Homo sapiens: one gene and its partners. The protein of the gene in region 2 purifies or fractionates together with the protein of the main gene of each other region. This does not show direct contact. Each region holds a gene or a part of one and is shown on either strand. Other genes may lie near its edges. The genes, in order: JMY, CPNE4 and BAHCC1.

Region 1 (3,656 bases), on a different chromosome or scaffold from region 2:
AGAGGGTCTGTATCGGGTAGAAGTGTGAAGGATTCTCTCAAAACATCCTTCTGTACCTTCTTCAATTTTACCCCTTTCCTTATTTGTGCCAAGATATTATTACTATCATCTTCATCAGGAAAAGGAGGCAGAGTTCGCTGTTCAACCTTTTTCAGATGAAAACTACCACGCTTCAAGGAGGCTAGCACCTCATCCATGGGTGAGCTCACTTTGGAAAATGAAACAGAACAGTATTACAGTTAGGACTGCACTTAATTAGAATGAAACTGTATAACCTCTACCGTTCGCAACTGTGAAAGCACAGGACGCTGAAACACCATCTTCAAAATGGATCATGAAATGTGTGCAGAAGGTGATCAGAACACAAGGGATCCTAATTATCCTTCTTTTTAGAAAATCCCAAGACCCAATCCATGGTGGGTACTGTTGGTATTCCTATCATTTCCTACATGAGAGAAGTGACCAGATTGGGAACTGGGAGGTGGTCTTAGTAGTATTATGGGTGTGATTCCCAAAGGATTTCCATATTGCAGTTGCTCCACCCAAATTCAGAGTGATGGGGTTACACATTTTGTTTTTAAAAATTAATTTTTGTTTATTATGGAGACTGTGCTTTTTTCATTTAGTTGTTTTACATGTGAAATCCTACTCAGATTACATCAAGAAATGTTTTATAGAATGGTCCTTCAGGTTAAAATGTAATATACAAGTAATATGTAACATTTATATAATGTTCTCCCCATGCAAAATGCAAATTCCTTAAAGGCAAAAGGCAAGGGTTATTCTCTGCTCTTTTTAGAAATAATTTTATTTGTGCTTGAATCTCTCTTAACAAAAAAAATTAGAAAAAAAAATAGTAACCTTATTGAGGCACATCTGTCACATTGTAAGTTGAACAGATTACTCCCTGTTCTTCTTTGCTTCTTTATACAAATACACAAAAGTCCTCAACAAATGTATGAACAAATGTTACATGATCCTGCCAATGTCTTCCCTGTGGTGACAGTCCTTACCAGATATCTTACCCTTTCTGATATGAGTATTTTTTTAAAAATCTCAGGTTTAAAATCAAAACTTTTTCCCTAACACAAAAGGAGCCACCCATTATACATTACCAAACATGAATGTATCACTTTAGAAGATCTGTTTTTAAAACATGCCTAACAGCCCAAGAAGGCATACATTTCTGTGTACTTTATGCACTAAGAATTCTCCTCTAGTGTGACTTTGAAAACCTGTTTACTATCAAATAATGTCAAAAATAAAGTGTTTTAAGCTTTGCAACGTCAAAAAATATAGTTTTTTACTATGCCTGATGTCATACAACAGATGGACCATGAAAATATGTTGACGTACCTCTCCTCCTCTGCAAACCTTCAGCAGTCTTTCTGAGCTTCTTCCGTGCACTGACCAGCTGGCTGCTGTCAAAGAGGTGTGCTGAGGGGGCACTGGCTGACTTTGGGATCCTCTTCTCATTCCCCTCCTTTCTAGGCAGATCTTTCTCCAGTGTCTCTGGGCCACTGTCCTTAGCAACAGGCAGAGGTGGTGGTGGTGGGGGAGGGGGAGGAGGTGGGGGAGGTGGTGGTGTTGGAGGAAGAGGGGATGGGAGTGGATTTATGGTAACAGAACATGGTTCGAGGTTGTTATTCAAAAGTGGAAGAGATATAGTGGGAGGCAGTTCAGAGGTAACACCACTGAGAGGTAATGAGGTGGCTTCAAGTTGTGTTAATGAAGTATCTTCAAGTTGCACAAGGCTCTGGGGTTCTGTTGTCTGTGATGGCCCACGCTTGACTCTTCCTTCTCCCACCTCTTCAGTTTTCTCTTCTACCTGTAACACACTTGGTAAAGAGTCACAATGATCCTCTTGGAGAACAGGACTTGCTGCACCTTTTCTTCTTGCATGAGCTAGTCGTAATCTGGTTGATTTAAGTATGACTTGCCCAGGATACCTCTAAAATACCAGAAGTTATTGGAACTGGTTAAATGTTATTGAAACAATTTATGAGCACATGCCTATTTATTTTCTCCTTCAAATAAAAGATGTTATGTGGCCGGGTGTGGTGGCTCACGCCTGTAATCCCAGCACTTTGGGAGGCCGAGGCGGGTGGATCACCTGAGATCAGGAGTTTGAGACCAGCCTGGCCGACATGGTGAAACCCCGTCACTACTAAAAATACAAAAATTAGCTGGGTGTGGTGGCAGGCACCTGTAGTCCCAGCTACTCAGGAGGCTGAGGCAGGAGAATTGCTTGAACCCGGGAGGCGGAAGTTGCAGTGAGCCGAGATTGTGCCACCGCACTCCAGCCTGAGTGACAGAGTGAGATTCCATCTCAAAAATGTTATGTTGGCTTATTGGTTATTTCACCCTTAAAGTTATACAGAAAATCCGAAAGTACCTAATAATAGCTTACAAACAATTATGAATTTATTATTTGCCTATCAAATCCACGATTGATAATTCAAATATTCAAAATTATGATTAAAAAAAGATTTTTAGTGAATAAAACTACTAAATGTATAAAACAAATAGCATGTAAAATGCAAAACATAAGTGATGTCAAATGTATAAATGCTACTGGTATGCAAAAAGTTTCCTATGTTTTCAAATGCACACACGAGAAAATTAAAATATTCTTTAACAGGTTACTTGGCATTTTTAAAAAGCTCCATCAACTATATATCCATTTTATGACAGAATGAAGAGAGAAATACATTTTTTTCAGTACTTACTGGTAGAACTCTTATATATATTTTACCATGGTAAGACCTTTTGTTTGTTTGTTTGTTTTTGAGACAGGGTCTCACTCTGTTGCCCAGACTGGAGTGCAGTGGTATGATCACAGCTCACTGCAGCCATGACCTCCCTGGCTCAGGTAATCCTCCCACTTCAGCCACCCAAATGGCCGGAACCACAGGCATGTTCCACCATGCCAGGCTAATTTGTATAGAGACAGGGTTTCGCCATGTTACCCAGGCTGGTCTTGAACTCCCCGGCTCAAGCAATCCACCTGCCTCAGCCTCATAAAGTGCTGGGATTACAGGCGTGAGCCACATTTACTTAATAACAAGGCTTTTCCCCTGCCTCACCTCCTTTTTTTCCACTGTAACACTTGTTCAAAAGCCTACTTCACCTACAAAGTGATCCTTCAGCATGCATAACTGAAGTAAGGCTCCAGAGTACTTTAAAAATGAGAACTGTGAGGCTTCAGCACAGTTCTGAGGAGATGTGTGGATACTGTGGTATCAGTGTGTGGTCATGGCTTACCCTGGCAAGAGAACTGCTGAAGCATTTCTCAAATATGCTGCTCCCCTCCACCTCTAATTCTGCCAATGGTCATTTGATGTATTACCACCACAGGCTGATGTATGTGGAATAAATAACATGCTGATGCTTGAGCTGGATAGTCAGTTGTGATTTAACTAATTTTTTAAACTCAAGAGGAATCTAGGTTTCCCAGAGGCCCTTATCATTCCTCTTATACTACTGAAGCTGTGGGTCAAAGGTCACAAGAATACTAAATTCGGAAAACCACCAGAGGAAATGGAGCCATGCCATTAAAACAATTTTAAAAAGGACTTCCATGGTTATAATAGTTTATAAATAAGGGAAAACCAAGTTTTTCCCACAAAGAAATCCTACAGGTGTATATGTAGCTC
Region 2 (3,656 bases):
CTTCATTAAAGTTGATTGCAAAGTCATGAGAGACCTAGACACCGATTAAAATTTAAAAAACAGGAAGAAAGAAGAATTACAACTTTAATCCAGTAAGAAGGCACTGGGGTTTAGAGTTTGCAAACAAATGCCCATTATATTCATTATGTGTTAAGCAGCAGGAACCATTTCAAGCCTTTACACAATCAATATGAGATGGAGGGTGAATTCTAAGCTCCCTGTGGAGTTGAGGTGACAGGAATATTTTCTAGAATCAGATAAATGCTGTCAGGAGGGGAGAATAAGGCTTATAAAAAAATCCAAGAAAAGATTTCAGAAAGATAACTTTGAATAGCTGCTAGTTAGAACTGGCCACAGACTGGAGGCTTAGATTTGGCTGAGCTCTATTTGGACCCAGTGATTAAAACAAAAATAAAAACAAAAAAACTCAATAACCCAAGCTGTCTGCTGAAGATAGCGATGGTTATAAAAGCTTCAGCTAAGCAGTTGACACTTAAGAATCATTAACATGATATGCAGAACTACAGGGCAGGAGGATTTTCACATACCTACAGGTAAAACAGACTGCACTCTACTTTTGGAAACATAGTAAAGTAATATACTTTGTAATATTTCAACACAAATTCCTCTACCTGGCAGAACCTATGCACAAGGTCAAATAACATATTGTTTACTTTTTTCTTTCCGAAAACCTGATAAAACAAGATAGATGTTCTGGCATCTGGACATTTTTATTGAATCATTTGGTATTTTATGGAGAATTTCATTTCAAAGGATATTTCCAAGCTCTGACTCTTTTGGGTATCCATAAATTAGGTCACTGTGTTAAAAGACACCTGTTTTCTTAGTGGGAGGTGATCGGTGATGCTCTCAGTGCTTATCCTAGTCCCTTGCTCTTAGCACTTCCAGGTAAGCCAGCTGACTTCAGTCATCTTATTTGCTTTGTTTACCTTAAGTTTTTTCTTGGCCTCCAGGGCCTGCCTTGCTTGCCCAAGTGACAGGCTAAAAGTGACCCTTGGGAGTAATCAGTAATTAACAGGAGGTGATGTATACATATCCCAGCTCCCTTATCCCTTGGGGTCCATGTGTGCTGTATATTGTCTCCTAGGGTTCTTCAGCAGAGTTAAGCACCAGTTGCCAACAGCGGTAACTGACTTGATAATATACTCTGTGCTGACTTCCACTTCCCAACCTCTATTGTGGTTTCCCTCACCTTTTAAATAAACTATTTGCATCCAAACCCTTGTCTCAAGATCTGTTTCTGAGAAAGTGCTAACTAAGAAAGAGAGGTGCTTGTGTTTCAGTTTCAATGCATACTTTCAGATTTTGTCCTAAGAAGTAAATTGTGGCAACCTTGTAAACTCTCCTGGGGGCACCTGAGCTGCTCAAATCATCAGTGCTTGTCTGAGGAATGGGAGAAATTAGGGGACCCGAAATGGGGAAATGTGAGAGATGCCTATTGAAACAAGAATAACCAGGGGATTTTGCTGACAGGAAGGATGGAGTTAGGGGATCAAGTGAACAAGAGGACTTCAGAAAACAGCAAGAAAGATTAGTTACTCCAGGAAGGGAACCAAAAAGATGTCATTAGTGAGAAAAAGGTATGGTGCATAGCTCTGTCCTCAGCCCTGTTGGGCCAACCTGAGGCTGGAAGACCACCTGGTGGGGATGTGGTGAAAACTCAAGAATCCCTGGGTAGTTGGGCTGATGGCTATTGAGCTATTCAGCAGCTCTATGAAGAAAGTGGGCATTCACCTGTTTACATTCCCGATTTGAAGGGGCCTATATCTCCTCAGCTCCAGCTTATTCTTGTATCGGTCATCTTTTAATCTTAGTGTTGCCAGGCCTTTCAGGTTTTCAAGAGAAACCAGAAATCTGACATTTTATATATGCAATTGCTGAATTCGTTTTTTAAAAGTGTGTCAAATATAACATATTTGTGGCCTGAATAATGTCTATAGGCCACCAGTTGATAACTCTTGTTCTATATTCTTTCTCTCCACAAGCTGTATTTCTAATAAATGCTTCTAGAATTATGTAGCTATGCCCAGCAGAAAGGCCAGTGTGGAATACAAGGCAAGAAAGAAGGAGAACAGGTCAGGGAGACAAGCGATTCCATCCACTATTCACTCTAGGAGCAACAGGGATATTGATTTCCTCTTTCAAAAAGGATACCTAAGGGGAAAGCCCTTTATATGATGGCTCTAGTGAGGGAGCAAATGTCAGCATCTACCTCCTCACCTGTGGCTCAGACACAGCCAGTAAAAGAGAAATTGAGGATTGGGCAGTGTTGTTTGTACTTAGCTCAGACCTCAGAGGCACTGGTAAGGTGGAGGCTGGGAGAGGTACCCTGCTGTCTCTCCAAGGCCCTGTCCACCTAGTGGGCACGAGTTCTCTGTGGAGAATGTTCTACAGGAGCATCTAGAATATCACAGTAGTGTCTCAGCCTCATTACAGTGCAAATTTATCTACACACAATCTTTGCCTTTTTTCTGTCATGAGAAATCATTATCAAAACCAAATAGGATTCCAACGTCTTCAGAAGAACATTTCAGCTTCCCAATTCTCTAAGTCATAATAGTTCTTTCTTCAAAACTTCTCTGTGTCTCCCATACAAGACTTGGACTCGGAGACTTGGGATAAGAAAGTCTGTAGACTCCATTGTCACGGACTTTCCCAGTTGGCATTGCCAATAGAATTCTATTTCCTAGGGGATATACGAGTGAATAGGTTCTGAGCCCCTGGAGATCAACTTCTTGAGTGTTTTCTCAGACTCTGACCACATTTATAAGAAACTAAACAATGAAACTCTTCATCTGGACCTCTGAGAAGACCCATCCAAAATACCAGGAGATAGGGTTTCATCAAGAGACGGGCCCTGGCGAGTTAATCTCACTGATTCTGAAGACAATTTCTGACTCTGTAGGCCCTACTGACACAGTTAGGTCAGAGTCAGGAGTGTGAGACTGCTGCAAAGAAGAGCCAAGTTATCCTTTGACCACAGTGAAGTGGAAGAAGATCACATCTCCACTCACTCACCGTGTACTCTGGAGGTATCCTGGCGCCAAACCCAAAGGCAGGGAACATTTTGTCACTGAAACCAAAATGAAGAAAAGAAAAAACAAGAAGTTGCTTCATTTATTCATTTAATGAGAAAGAAAAACATTAACCTACATTACTAGGTTGCTAGGCCATGTTGCTATGCCAGTGCTGACTCATGCTTCTTGATTGTCTGTGGTGATGGGGGTAGCAATAGCATGGATAATTAAAATCAAGAAACAGCCCCTTAAGTTCATTACAGTCATTAGTCTACAACTTCCTCCCTTAATTTTTTTGCTAGATTCTATACTAAGAAATAAAATGGCCCTACCCTTTCATCAATGGCCTCCACTTCAACTTTCAACTTTGTTTCCTTTGAAAAGTGACCATGAACTAGGTAACTGTAATGGTTGACTGTGTTAGAACCTTTTGTATGTATCATCTTTTAAAATACAAGGAGAGATAGTTATTCCCCTTCTGCAGGTGGGGAAATGCCTTGAGAGGTAAAGTGACTTGCCCAAGATCATGCCACTAATTAGAGCTAGAGTTCAAATACAGATAAGACTGAATCGAAATGGATATTAAAAAGCAATGGGGCCAGGTGCAGTGGCTCACTC
Region 3 (2,844 bases), on a different chromosome or scaffold from region 2:
CCCTAGTACCTCCGACTGTCTCCCACCAGGGAAAGCAGAAATCAGGTGTGTTGTCTATTTATTTCTCTATGTAAATATTGTATTTCTGCGGGGAAATTTTATGGTAAAAAGTGGAAAAGGGTTTTTCCCCATCCGCGTGACAAGGTGTGTGTGAGCGTGTATGTGTGTGCGCGTGTGTGGCGATTTTTGTCCTGGGGTTTCCTTTGGAAATGCACTGTTCTCAGCCCAGCTGGGTTCCAACGGGGGCACCTGGGACGACAGAGGCATCTCGGGGCAGGGGGCAGAGGCCACGGGAGGGTCAGGTGGGACCCTTGACGGCACCCTCTGATCTCTTGGGGGGACGACCGTGTAAGATGAAAGTCGGTCAAGTTTATTTGCTTTCAGTGCATCTCCTAGAAAAGAAGTGTTGGAGCAGGGGGTGGTGATGAGGGGCCCGTGGGGAAAGGATTCAAGAGGCAAAGCCCAGACCAGGGAGTGTGACAACAGCCGTGAGCATCTCACCTGTGTTCAAAACAAGACAAAGACGAACAAATATTTTAAAGTATTGATAAGAAAAAGCAATGTTTGGATTGTATCTGCTGAATCATATTCCAACCTATATCTGATTTCTGTTTCCGGGGCCAGTTGGTCTGAGGCCAAGGAGTCTGGCCTCCACCCAGAGCAGGGAGGGGCTGGCCCCTCGCCCCCCTCACCCTCGCCGCCCTGGCACACTCGGGAAGCAGGGCCCAGCTCTGAGCCCCTCCTCACCCCTGGGGTCCTAACTTTCCTGAAAGTAGTAGGTGCCGTGAGAAGGGGCAGTTTGGCCAGGTTCCTGAACTGGGCAGGGCTCGGGGCCTATGAGGGCAGGTTCACAGTCCCACCAGATTCTCTCCTCACCCCCAAGCAGAATGCATGCAAAAGACACCCCTTTTCCCACCCACCTTATTGGTGCCCCCAAACCCCTGGCCTGCTGCGTAGATGGTGGTGAGGCCAGGCCAGCAGTGCTGTGGCCAGGGGAGAAGAAAATAAAACGCAGGCCCTGCCCTTGGGGAAGGCCCCTTTCTGGGCCCCCTTTTCCACCAGCCAAATCTGCCTGGCCCTCGGACCCCTCTGCCTGCCCCAACCCCTTTGGAGGTTTCTCGGCCTTTTCTGTGCCACTTGGTGGGGCAGATGGCCTGATGGGCTAGTGCTTGGGGCATAGAATGAGGGTCCCCCTGACCACCTGAGCCCAAATCCTGGCCCCAGGTGCAAGCAGCACCCCTCGAGGGCTCTGCCCCAGTATCCCCAGGGAATTCACACCCCTCCCCTTCTCCCACAGCCAAGGACAGACAGGCTGCCTGGACCTGAGCCCAACAGCCTTCAGCCTCAGAAACGCATGGGGGGCCACACACTCCTTATATCCTCCCACACTAAGGTTCCCCTGGCCCCACGGGAGCTTCAGGAAAGCCCCCCAAGTTAGCCACTGCTCTAGGACGAGCTCTGTGTCCCCCACACCACAGGCCTCGAAGCAGGGTGCTGGTGGGTGCCCTGTACCCCAATCCCAGGTCCCCTTGGCCCCCTATTTTTCTCGGGCCCATTGGGGCCTGTTTCTCACCTGCTGGCTGGACCCCCTGAAGGGCCGTTCCCAGAGGCTCCCCAGGAGGCTCAAGGCTGGGGGCTTATGTTGTGGTCGGGGGTCCCCGCCTCCAGCCCCCCGCTCCCACCCCCGAGCCTACCCTTTGTCTCGCATGAGTGCAATATTTCATTCCCGGTGGTTGTCTGGGGAGGTGGTTGGACGAGGTCCTGCTTGAGGCTCGGGGATCAGAACGATGTCAAGTGAAGAAAAATGCACGGGGGCATGCTGAGCCACTGGAGTTCCAGAGAGGGCCGAGGAGGGTGCAGCCACGGAGGTTGGATCCTCTGCTCCGCCGCCTCGTCCTCGTCCCGCTTCTGCTGGGTTCCGCTTTGTCCCTGGTTTTTTCCTTTCTTTTTCTGTGTGCGTGCGAATGGTGCGGCCCCTCCCCTCTCACCGTGGTTAACGTGACGAAGGCACGATTCCTGTAAATGTGTAAACTAAGGGGATGGTTGGATTTTTTTTCAATGTAAACACTAAAAACAAAATGGACAAAAAAACACACAAAGGTTTTATGAACAGCAGACTCTATGTAAAGGCATTTTAGTATCAAATTTTTTATTGATAACTTGCTTAAGAATAAATATATGGACTATTGTACAGGTTTTCGGTGGTCCAGGGTCCTGTGTCCCACGGTACTCCTGGGGGTTCCCCAGGGCTCCGGGGGCTCAGCAGAAGCCTCTCGTTCCCAGAGCTGGGGCTTCTGGGCCAGGCCTCCCCACCGCCCCCTGTGTTGGCCCAAGTGAAGCCCCTCAGGCCAGGAAAGGGTCATGTGACCGGAATGGGCTCAGAGTGGTCTTAGGGGTGGGGTCCCTCCAGGAGGAGGGCCCCTTTCCTGGTTGCTCTCACAGTCCCTGTCCAGCCTGAACCAGTCCAGGGCCAGAGTAGGTTCCACTGGAGAGGACGAAGGGCAAGAGCAGTCTCCGAGCCGCCACGCTGGGCAGGGTCTCAGACGTGAATGACCATCCTGGGAGGGGCGGCCCACGGCCCGGGTGTGGGAACACAGATGAGTGCACCCCCAGCTGGAGAGAGCCCTGTTCATGAGGCTGCAGACCCAGAGGAAGCCGGATGCTTGCAGGGGGTAGGGGACCCTCCTTGTTCCCCCTCTGCCGCCGGGATCTTGGGAAGCTGCATGAAGTCGGTGCACATCTGTCCCAGTGGGCCCTGAGTGCCTGGTCACAGCTGCGTCCAAGGCCAGGAAACATGGTCCTTGGAGGACGGAGTCCCTGAGTCAGCAGTGCCTTCCTGGGCCG

Evidence for each region.
Region 1: the proteins of CPNE4 (region 2) and JMY purify together in Homo sapiens (affinity purification with mass spectrometry; one large-scale study listed by BioGRID and IntAct). This does not show direct contact.
Region 3: the proteins of CPNE4 (region 2) and BAHCC1 purify together in Homo sapiens (affinity purification with mass spectrometry; 2 studies listed by BioGRID and IntAct, with this or other methods). This does not show direct contact.

Annotation. Positions count from the first base shown.
Region 1 is NC_000005.10:79,312,552-79,316,207, reverse strand, and holds part of JMY (junction-mediating and -regulatory protein), read right to left. Parts: intron 1,952-3,656; coding exon 1,357-1,951; intron 209-1,356; coding exon 1-208. UniProt on the Homo sapiens protein: Acts both as a nuclear p53/TP53-cofactor and a cytoplasmic regulator of actin dynamics depending on conditions. In nucleus, acts as a cofactor that increases p53/TP53 response via its interaction with p300/EP300.
Region 2 is NC_000003.12:131,552,458-131,556,113, forward strand, and holds part of CPNE4 (copine-4), read right to left. Parts: intron 3,095-3,656; coding exon 3,040-3,094; intron 35-3,039; coding exon 1-34.
Region 3 is NC_000017.11:81,464,136-81,466,979, forward strand, and holds the end of BAHCC1 (BAH and coiled-coil domain-containing protein 1), read left to right. Parts: 3' UTR 1-2,196; downstream 2,197-2,844.